Linked DNA regions of Homo sapiens. The protein of the gene in region 3 purifies or fractionates together with the protein of the main gene of each other region. This does not show direct contact. Each region holds a gene or a part of one and is shown on either strand. Other genes may lie near its edges.

What was found.
Region 1: the proteins of IGFL3 (region 3) and JAG2 purify together in Homo sapiens (affinity purification with mass spectrometry; one large-scale study listed by BioGRID and IntAct). This does not show direct contact.
Region 2: the proteins of IGFL3 (region 3) and FBN2 purify together in Homo sapiens (affinity purification with mass spectrometry; one large-scale study listed by BioGRID and IntAct). This does not show direct contact.

The regions. Positions count from the first base shown.
Region 1 is NC_000014.9:105,141,053-105,144,803, reverse strand, and holds part of JAG2 (protein jagged-2 isoform a precursor), read left to right. Parts: intron 1-1,165; coding exon 1,166-1,322; intron 1,323-1,633; coding exon 1,634-2,109; 3' UTR 2,110-3,751. UniProt on the Homo sapiens protein: Putative Notch ligand involved in the mediation of Notch signaling. Involved in limb development.
Region 2 is NC_000005.10:128,531,619-128,535,269, forward strand, and holds part of FBN2 (fibrillin-2 precursor), read right to left. Parts: intron 1-3,651.
Region 3 is NC_000019.10:46,122,512-46,126,262, forward strand, and holds the start of IGFL3 (insulin growth factor-like family member 3 precursor), read right to left. Parts: upstream 2,178-3,751; 5' UTR 2,139-2,177; coding exon 2,114-2,138; intron 1,811-2,113; coding exon 1,757-1,810; intron 1,646-1,756; coding exon 1,375-1,645; intron 1-1,374. UniProt on the Homo sapiens protein: Potential ligand of the IGFLR1 cell membrane receptor.

The DNA.
Region 1 (3,751 bases), on a different chromosome or scaffold from region 3:
CTCCCTGCGGCCCCTCGCTGTCCATGCCGCAGACCCGTGGAACTGCTCCCTGGGCCTGGCCAGCATGAGGGAGATGCAGGGCTGTGGTGTGGAGCCCGCTTCCCCTGCAGCTGCATCCTCGCCCGGTCCCCTGCTCTGTTTTTGTCTCTGTGTCCCTACGTCACAGGCAGCAGGAGAGTCCGTGGGCTTAGTCTGCCCTGGGAGGCCTGCTTTGGGACTGGCACCTGCCCTGGACCTGGGGGGTGTCAGATGTGAATGGATACCAAGGGGGTCGGGTGAGACTGGGGTGGAGACATGCCCGGAGAGGGGAGGGAATGTTCTGGAACATGGTGGGTGGGTGTGCAGAGCAGTGGGTGTGGCCATGGCACAGTGTGGCTGGTGGAGGCCATGGCCAGGCACAGGAAGGACGTGCAGTGTTTTGGTGCCCTGAGGCCGCAGAGGGGGTGGGGGACATGGATGGGTGCTGCTGGGTGATGGAAGGGCAGTAGGGGCAGGGGAAGATGTAAGAAGTGTGCCAGCACAGGTCAGGGCGCCATCAGGGATGTGGTGGAGGCAGGGGCACAGCCCCGGGTTGCTGTGGCCTCGTGAAGGCACTAGGTTTGTGGTGCCCCTGGGGTGTGGCCCATAGGTGGGGGTGGGGGCTGGGAACTGACAAGAAGGGATGGCCATCACGGAGCAGGTGTCAGCGAATGGGGCCACACACCTCCCCAACTCACTGCCTGGTGGCGAGGTCCCCACCGCAGGACCCCGGGCTCTCCTGTGTGCCCGGACGGGGACACCCTCCACCCCTCCACTTCCCCCCACCCCTCACTGCCTGCTGGTGAGGTCCCCACCGCAGGACCCTGGGCTGTCCCGTGCGCCCGGATGGGGACATCCTCCACCCCTCCCCTTCCCCCCACTGCTCGCTGCCTGGTGGTGAGGTCCCCACACCTCAGGACCCTGGGCTCTCCTGTGTGCCCGGATGGGGACAGCCTCCACCCCTCCACTCCTCCCCCCGCTACTCCCCACTCACTGCCTGGTGGTGAAGTCGCCACTGCAGGACCCCGGGCTCTCGTCTCCCGTGCGCCCACCTTGCTCCAGTGTGGCCAGGGCCTCAGTGTTGGGGGCAGGCTGCTGGGAGCCTGGAGCCCTCGAGCCATCCCCACAATGCCGTTCTTTGCCGCAGTCCTTCAGCCCTGCCAGGGACCTGCCTGACAGCAGCCTGATCCAGGGCGCGGCCCACGCCATCGTGGCCGCCATCACCCAGCGGGGGAACAGCTCACTGCTCCTGGCTGTCACCGAGGTCAAGGTGGAGACGGTTGTTACGGGCGGCTCTTCCACAGGTAAGCGCGGGAGGTGGGCCCCTGGGAAGGCACCAGGCAGGCAACTCAGGCATTGGGCACAGAGCCGGCCGATCCTGCCGATCCTGCCAGCCACCAGGAACACAGAAGTCCCTGGCACCTGCTGCCCCAGCCGCCCAGCCCCACAACCTGACCTTCCCAGCCCCCGTCCTGGGACCCTCCCCACGAGCCAGCAACCGGAGGGTGGGGCCCGGCCGCCTGGCCCGCAGGGCCCTCCCAGGCCTGGGTGTGTGGCTAGTGCCCCGCAGGTGCCCAGGCCTCATTGCCCACCGGCTCTTCTCCCCGGTCCCCAGGTCTGCTGGTGCCTGTGCTGTGTGGTGCCTTCAGCGTGCTGTGGCTGGCGTGCGTGGTCCTGTGCGTGTGGTGGACACGCAAGCGCAGGAAAGAGCGGGAGAGGAGCCGGCTGCCGCGGGAGGAGAGCGCCAACAACCAGTGGGCCCCGCTCAACCCCATCCGCAACCCCATTGAGCGGCCGGGGGGCCACAAGGACGTGCTCTACCAGTGCAAGAACTTCACGCCGCCGCCGCGCAGGGCGGACGAGGCGCTGCCCGGGCCGGCCGGCCACGCGGCCGTCAGGGAGGATGAGGAGGACGAGGATCTGGGCCGCGGTGAGGAGGACTCCCTGGAGGCGGAGAAGTTCCTCTCACACAAATTCACCAAAGATCCTGGCCGCTCGCCGGGGAGGCCGGCCCACTGGGCCTCAGGCCCCAAAGTGGACAACCGCGCGGTCAGGAGCATCAATGAGGCCCGCTACGCCGGCAAGGAGTAGGGGCGGCTGCCAGCTGGGCCGGGACCCAGGGCCCTCGGTGGGAGCCATGCCGTCTGCCGGACCCGGAGGCCGAGGCCATGTGCATAGTTTCTTTATTTTGTGTAAAAAAACCACCAAAAACAAAAACCAAATGTTTATTTTCTACGTTTCTTTAACCTTGTATAAATTATTCAGTAACTGTCAGGCTGAAAACAATGGAGTATTCTCGGATAGTTGCTATTTTTGTAAAGTTTCCGTGCGTGGCACTCGCTGTATGAAAGGAGAGAGCAAAGGGTGTCTGCGTCGTCACCAAATCGTAGCGTTTGTTACCAGAGGTTGTGCACTGTTTACAGAATCTTCCTTTTATTCCTCACTCGGGTTTCTCTGTGGCTCCAGGCCAAAGTGCCGGTGAGACCCATGGCTGTGTTGGTGTGGCCCATGGCTGTTGGTGGGACCCGTGGCTGATGGTGTGGCCTGTGGCTGTCGGTGGGACTCGTGGCTGTCAATGGGACCTGTGGCTGTCGGTGGGACCTACGGTGGTCGGTGGGACCCTGGTTATTGATGTGGCCCTGGCTGCCGGCACGGCCCGTGGCTGTTGACGCACCTGTGGTTGTTAGTGGGGCCTGAGGTCATCGGCGTGGCCCAAGGCTGGCAGGTCAACCTCGCGCTTGCTGGCCAGTCCACCCTGCCTGCCGTCTGTGCTTCCTCCTGCCCAGAACGCCCGCTCCAGCGATCTCTCCACTGTGCTTTCAGAAGTGCCCTTCCTGCTGCGCAGTTCTCCCATCCTGGGACGGCGGCAGTATTGAAGCTCGTGACAAGTGCCTTCACACAGACCCCTCGCAACTGTCCACGCGTGCCGTGGCACCAGGCGCTGCCCACCTGCCGGCCCCGGCCGCCCCTCCTCGTGAAAGTGCATTTTTGTAAATGTGTACATATTAAAGGAAGCACTCTGTATATTTGATTGAATAATGCCACCATTCCGGCCTCCCTTGTTCTTTCGGTGCTGTCCCTTTTGTATTGAGAGTGAGGTTGGGGGAGAGCCACGCCGGCAGAGAGGCTTGGGGCAGTGGGGCGCGTGCTGGGTATTGGCCCACGTGGCTGTGGTGGCTGTAGAGGGCGAGACGGTTCTGTTGAGTCGGGGCCTGCCAGGGCCTCGAATGCGTTGGCATGCCAAGGTGGTGGATGCAGGTTTGGCCAAAACCTTCCTGGGAATGGGGAGGGGGGTGTCTAGGTGCCTGGCACCCGACCCTGACTAAAACAGCTGAAAACAGTTTTATAAAATAGTATAAAATTGCTTACCCACGAATACGTATCAAGGTCTTAAGGAATTAACAGGTCAAAATTTTTATTCATTCATTTATTCCTTTGTTTTGCTTGGTCATTCAGAGGCAAGGTCAGCATTTGATGGAGGCAGGAGAGAAGCAGCCCTTCCACCTGGCCCTGGAGCTGGTTTTGCCCCTCACTGCTTGAGCCAACTGGAACGTGGCATGGTGGCCTCAGGGCTGGGCATGGAAGGCCGACTCCAAGGCTGACTCCGAGCCGCCTGTCAGTGATGTGCAAGTCTTTACCCTGCTGTGAGGGGTAGGAGGTCAACTGAGTCAAGGAGCAAAGCCAAGAACCAGATCTGTACAAAAGAGAAAAAAAAAGTCCTGCTGACAGCCTG
Region 2 (3,651 bases), on a different chromosome or scaffold from region 3:
AATAAAATAAAGCACAGGCTTTTTAAGTTTAAAATACATATATATGTGTGCGTGTGTGTGTATATATATGTATGTATATATAAGTGTATATATATGTATGTGTGTATATATATATATATATATACACACACATATTTACTGGCTTTAAAAGGTCTAAAAGAACTTTCACCAAACAGTACAATGGATCTCACTGCATGATGGGCTTATGTATGGATTATTACTTTTTTAATAAACAGTTAAAGCTTTGCAATAAGGAAAAAAAAATTGCATAATCCTAAATCTTTAATTGTCTTATCAATACAGGTTGTCTCTTTCATTAAAGACTGAGAGTTTAAAATGCAGAATTCACCCAGAGAAGACAGCCTTGATTCTAAGTAGTTGGGAGGGTTGCAGGAATAGAGAAAATACAGCCCACTATGCAAAAGCCTTCACAGGAGACAGACAACATGAAATTGGCTGAACCAGAGGCTCCAGTTCTAATGACTTGGCCAAGCCTCAAGGGTTCCACACACATTCCTTCCAGGCTGGTATCTGACCTACCCTGTGATCAATCTTTGGTCCCCTCAATAATTCCCTCTCCTTCCTACAGCCTTTCTCCTTCCATATTATCTCCACAACCTAGCGTATTCCTACTGCTCAGAAAAGCTACTGTGGCATTTTGATGGTGGGGAGAGTCAAAGCCTCCTGCAGCTGTGACCTCCAATGAACAGAAAGGTATGAGGGTCATCACAGCAAAGAATGTTAGGCTCACTGACACAATACATTCCACAGATACTCCACACTTGTAGCCAAGTACCTTCGAATGGGAAGTCTCTCCCATGTTTAGAGACAGTTCATTTAGGAGCTGAGAGATTTCTCTCTATAACCATAATTGAGTTCTCTCTTTCGGCACAAGGGCTGTGTACTTTAATGCTCATGCCATGACTGGATATATAAAGACAAGAAGAAAGTCTGGAAATGCTCTGAAACTGGCTGTAGTTAGGGAAAGGTCCCACAACTTTCAAAGAGATTTGGGACCCTCAACAATGAAAAAAGCATTTCCTGCAGAAGTAAACTAACTCACTAATTGTTTTTCTTCTCCAAGATGCCTTCTGATATCCATATATTACTACTAGCATTAGTACTTCTTATAAATGAAAACAGTGGGCTGGGTATGGTGGCTCATGTCTGTAATCCCAGCACCTTGGGAGCCTTAGGCAAATGGATCACTTGAGCCTAGAAGTTGGAGATCAGCCTGGGCAGACCCCAACGCTACGAAAATTTTTTTAAAAATTAGCCTTGCACATTGGCATGTGCCCATAGTCCCAGCTACTCAGGAGGCTGAGGTCAGAATGCAGCTTGAGCCCGAGAGGTCAAGGCTGCAGTGAGCTGTGATCATGCCACTGCATTCCAGTCTGGATGACAGCCAGATCCTGTCTCAAATTAATAAAAAAAGAAAAAGTGAATAGTGTCAAATACTGTGATGTTAAGATAAAAATATTTTAGGCAAGAATATGTTTCCTGCCATGGAGTTGACTCTTACTTCTTAAAATGTACTACAGTTTCTGATCACCAGTAACTCTCCAATGACAAATGTGCATTAAAACATTGTTTTATTTCAAAGTTTCCTCCTCCCCAGAAGGCCAATATTTAGTCTAGGCTTAAGAGAGGAGACCCAAAGTACCTCCACCCGGGTTCCAAACCAAATGAAGGTTTGATGGGCTGGAGACTGAGCATTCTCAGGCATTTACCTGTCGTGGATACAGGTATATACTCTGTATCTGTGAGCCAATGAGAAGCAAGAATGCTGAGGCCCTTTTGCCCCACAACAGCCTCAGACTATGGTACACTTACTGAATACGTCCCTCCCACAATTACTAAAACTATGAGACCTAGAAATACCAGAGGGAGAGGGAGACAGGACCTAGGGGCTGAGACTTCAGTGATGCTGTGAGAAGTCACATGGCCAGGTAAAGAATACATAGTACCCAAAAGGTCTGAAGTTTAGTTGTCACTCTGCCATTGATCTGCTATGAGCTCCAGAAAAACCCACAGCCTTTCTGGGTTCAGTGTTTTCATTTGGTAGCATAACATAAAGGAATTATACCGGAATGCTCTGATGTTTCCTCAGGTCTCAAATGTTATTTAGTCCAGCCAACCTCATCCCACTCTTATTATATTGATCAAAATACTGTTCATAGCATAATTTCACAATAAATAAATTAATAAGCAAATTGTTTCATTGCTTCATGTTCTAAGAAGATTAAAAAAAAAAAGGTGAGAAAGTCAATTCCGTACTTTTGGAAATGAATATTTGGAAGTTTGGAAGTACTTCAGTAATTTTTCTAGGCTACAACTAAGCACAATACCAACAAAACATAGAGACTCAAATCAAAATGCATTAGGTTTCCAGAACTTGGAGAATTACAGTTTCTTTTTAATATCTTCTCCTTATAAAGCCTGTCAAACACTAAAATTCTGTTGACCATTTTTTATTTTTCTATATTAAAAGAATGCTGAGGTACAAATGTATGAGAAAATTAATATTTGGTTTTTATTTATTTGTATTTTATTTATTTTCTTTTTTGTAAATGGTCTCAGATACTTTCTTTTGCTAAATGGTGTGATACAGATAAATCCAATAAATATAATAATTTACTTAATTCATTATCATCAGGAAGGCCTGGAATTAAAATTCTTGATTTTGAGTTTATAACGGTTTCATTTCACTTATTACCTCTACATATGATCATTTTAAATGTCAGACTAATTGAACTACTGAATTGAATGCAGGCTATTAGCATTAAATGAGACTCATGCAATAGAATATAAAGGTATTACACTGTCCCTATTTTGTGCACTGTTTAATAATCTTAGGTACTTAGAATTTTTAGATGTGTTTCTAATAAATATTTTTGTAGATACGTCTTGACACAAGTGTTATAAATGTTTCTTACAGATATAAAGATCATTTCAAAGTTTACTCTCATAGATTTCTGATACGTGTAAATTCCAATGTAGCTCATAACCATCCAAATATTTCAAGTCTCAGAAATGCAGATTACAATAGTCACTGTTACCCTGAGATTTTCAAAGCTGATTTTCTACCAGTGATCAGTGGGGCCATACATATATTTCTACTGCAAATATTCTGGAAGGCTCTGCTCTCTGGAATTCCCATTCCACACTGATCCAATAAAATCTGACTTTACAGATTTTCAACACGTACCATGAACCAATCCCTCCTCCTCGGCTGCTCTCCAACTCAATAATGGCAGTCACATTCATTACATTTAGTGAGTCAGACTTTCCGCCGTGCCTAAGTCACTCCCAGCTAGTATGGCAGGTGTGTGATGAGTGACGTTAGCTGTTTCAGGAGTCTAAAAAACCGTGTAAGTTTAAAGCAGCCATGGTAATGCCCTACTGGCCTGAAAGAGTAAACCCACCCTCCATTAATGCCTCACATATGACTTCTGTGTTGGAGAGAAAAGAATGCAGAACATGTTCTTTTAAAAAATAAAGCAAAGGCTTATTATAATCAGAGGATTTGTTCAAAATATTTATAAGTCACTTTAAATAACACAGTTGTTTCCTATTTTTGCCATTGGAAATAGTGGGATGTTAAGGTAGAAAAAATAAGAAGAAATTAGTCTTTATGACACTGGAGATTTC
Region 3 (3,751 bases):
TTTTCCATAGTCAACAGTTTTAGCACAAGGACTTTAGAAAATGACAGATTTTTTTGGTAAAGTTTACTGCCTGAAAAGAGTTTAATAAAGAACATCCAAGGCCTGATTGCTGTTATTCTGAATATAACTTTTAATTACTTTCTGTAAGTTACATTCGGTTACTGTCAGACAACTTACTGTTGCATGGAAAAATGCCCCAAAAAACTGCAATGGTTTACATACATTTTACATTACACGTATTACCTCTTAAAACCCCCAACAGAATAAAGTCTTAGCAAACACAAATTTTAATTTCTGAACACCCTTCCAGTAAGATTGTAAAGGTGGGAGGAAGGGGAGGAAGGACTTGTTTTTTGTATTCCTAGTCTACTTGATTAAAATGTAATCTTCCAAGGGTTTGTTTAGCTCACTATCCAGACTGCTAGGGTTATGATGAACATTATTACTTCTTTCCAGGGTAAAAAAAATGACATTTGAAAATAATGTAAATGCTATGACATGATTTTCCCAAGCATGACCTCAACTTGAAACATTAGATTACTTAAGAATTCTAAAGATTGGTATACCACCACTGCACCAGAATTTTTAATTATTCCAACAGCTACAGGAATTTTTTAATAGTTTTTTTAATTTTATGAACTTAAAGCTGAAGAAAATAACCGATTTAGAAACCATAATAAAAGGACAGATATTTAGCCAGAGATATCAGTTCCTCCTGAAAAAGGATACTGACCTCCTCTCACTGCAGTTTTTCTCCAGGTATCTTACTGATTTCAGATAGAATTTAAAATTCATCTTAAAAATAGAAACAAAAGGACTACTTAAACTGACATTAACTAATAAAAATATGCTCAAATTTACTGACAGAATCATGGACACTTCATACAATACTTAGACTCTACCAGTTTTAAGTAAAGTAAGGAAAAAATTATAATTACAAAGCCAGTCTTTCCCCTTGGGGAAACAAAAAAGCCACTTTTGACCAATTGTTCCCTGCATATACATATACTGTATATTATTATAAGCTTCTTCAGAGAAGCAAAACATCTTTGTCTTCCTGACACTGGATTATTTAGCATGTTTTTTTACATCAGGAAGGCAACTGCACTGCTTGCATTTTTCTACCAGCTGAGTGTCTGGTGATAGCTGGGTGCAAGAAGATTGTGAGTTATTTATGCAGGAGGACTGTTTGTCCTCGACCATGAAGAAAGGCAGACTTATAGCTTATCTGCTTCTTCTTTTTGCTTTCCCCTGCTGCCACCAGCCTGACTCTTTTGCCGTTAGAACTCCACAAACAGGAGTTCCTCTTCAAGCCCTCTGTATCCCTCATCCCTCCCTCATTCCTTTAGTTAAGAGCAAGGTAGGGACCTTTACCTGGTACAGCTCCGGGAGATGGGAGATAAGTGACACTGAGACTTCATACCCAGAACCCTCAACTTCACAAGAAACTTCTGCTGGGGGCCAAAAGACTCGGGACAGCAGAGCTCAAAGCAGGGCCAGAAGGTGCAGGTGGAGCCACAGCGGCGGGTCTCCTTTAAGGATAAGATGGCATCATCATAACAGCACTGCTCTGAAGGGTTGTAGATCTTGTTCCCACACCTGGGTGTCGGCTGGCACAGCCACAGTCCTGAGCCAACAGGAGCGTCTGGGGGCAGACATTGATGGTGTACATCCAAGGAAGAACAGATACTCAATTCCCAGTCTCTTTTCCCAACACCACCTCTTCCCTCCTCATTTTTCCCTGTCCTGTCCTTACCTGTAGTTCCTTTTGAACACTGGAGGAGGAAGACTGTTATCCAGCAGACAAGAGCTAAGGGAGAAAGGAAAAAGGTTGAACATGGAGCTGAGAATGTGACAAGTATGGAAAAAACAAACAAACAAACAAACAGAGGTTAGGGTGGTTTAAAGGTGGAGATTATCACTTGGGGCTAAGTCTGTATGGGATCCCGTTCAGGCAGGCCCTGAGCAGCACGCTCAGTCACCCTTTGAGGTGACTAGTAGGGCACAGGAGGCTGGAATAATGTTAGAGATAAAGAGGAATAAATCGGGTTGAGGTTTGGGAGCTGCACTGGGAATGAGATGAGATGATGTTTGGATTTGGGGTCCTACTTGCCCAAGATGCAGCATCGTGGCCTCATGCTTCCAAAGATGCTCTAGGAGAATTGAAGAAGAGTGGTAAAAGGCTGGAACTTATGGAGACAGCCTAAATGGGGTTGTCTGTTAACCTGGTAAGTTTACTGATTGGATGGCTGCTGATCATGCCACCTGCAGTCTCCCAAGCACATTCCTTGAAGATAACCAAAGTCTCCCAAGCACATTCATTAGTTTCTTTAAGGAGGAGACTGGGTGGCGTAAGGGACCACAGAGCCGAATGTTGCAGACTGACTCATTGCATTCTCCATATACTATTGCAGACCTCAGGGTGAATGAGTGTAGGTTGGTCCTACTCCAAGTTAGGCTTCTAAGAGTTTTCAAGCTCCGACATTGAGGAGACAGTGCCCAACTAAGCTCCAATCAGAGAGAATGCTTCAGCCACTTCCCCATCTGGTTTCACATCCTCCCCTTCCTAATACTTGCTTCTTCTATATTCCCCAAGCACGATGTCTCTGGAAATGTCAAGGGGACCGTTTATGAAGCCACTTTATTTTTTGCTCTGGAGTCATTAGAGTTGCCACCTGCTCTAGCAGTTGAGCCACGGCTCTGGAAACTCCAATAAAGGGGGTAGGGGTGGAGAATAGCAATGGCCCAAATCTCCTGGTGTGCTTGGTGTGAGGATTCAGAGACCTCCAGCATCTTAGTTACATGGTCAGGGAAAGTACTAAACACCTGCTTTTCATAATCATATTATATTAGTGGCCAATGATAAGTGATGTAGTACTTAGGAGTGTGTAGTACTTAGGTGTGCAGACAGAGGGAAGGGCAGGGCAAACTGAGGCCTGCCAGGCAAGTGCCAGCTAGGGAAGGGCTTGGACAAATTCAAATAATCCCGAAGCTGTGGAAAGGACCTCAGTCTTCATGGATGTGTGATGATTCAATCAGAAAATGTCTAAGGATTGGCCAGACTTTCCATCCTCCACTTGCTGGCACAGCATAGGGAAGAGTTGCTGACTTAAGTTCATCCAGCCTGTACCATAGCCTTTGAAATGGTTCTCCTTTTCTGAGCTTCATTCTTAGCTTCCTGTACATGTGCGGAGGTGTGGGGTGTGGTTTGGATGCACAAGGCTGCTCTCCCCTACCCCGGAACCTAAGAAGGCCAACAATGTGAAGATTCCTAGTGAGCCCAGGCTGTCAGCTTGTTTACTACCAAATGTTAAAAAGAAACGTTTGAGTTTGATTAGGTAAAATACAAAGGACAAATAATAATATCTTTAATATACAATTATCATTCTTATTCCAAATGAAACTTCAGCTTTACTATTGGGCATTGGGAAGTTAATGTGTACTTAATTTTTCATCTTACAGAAGTGGCAAGGGGCAGCTTGAAGGGATAATTTTTAATGCATTTTATAATGATAATCATTTAGAGAAATCCTTATGTTGTATCTCATTAACACTAAGATGTTATTGAAAGATACACTGTTGTTTTGCAACTCTAAGATGCAATCTCATCACTTAGAATGTTTATTAACAGAGCTTCTTGCAACATGTTGAGACGTAGACTTTTGGAAGGCGAATAGAAAAATAAAAATATATGGGAAATAAATCTGTTAAAGATTTCTTAAAATGTCTCCACATTTGGAGACTGCCTCCT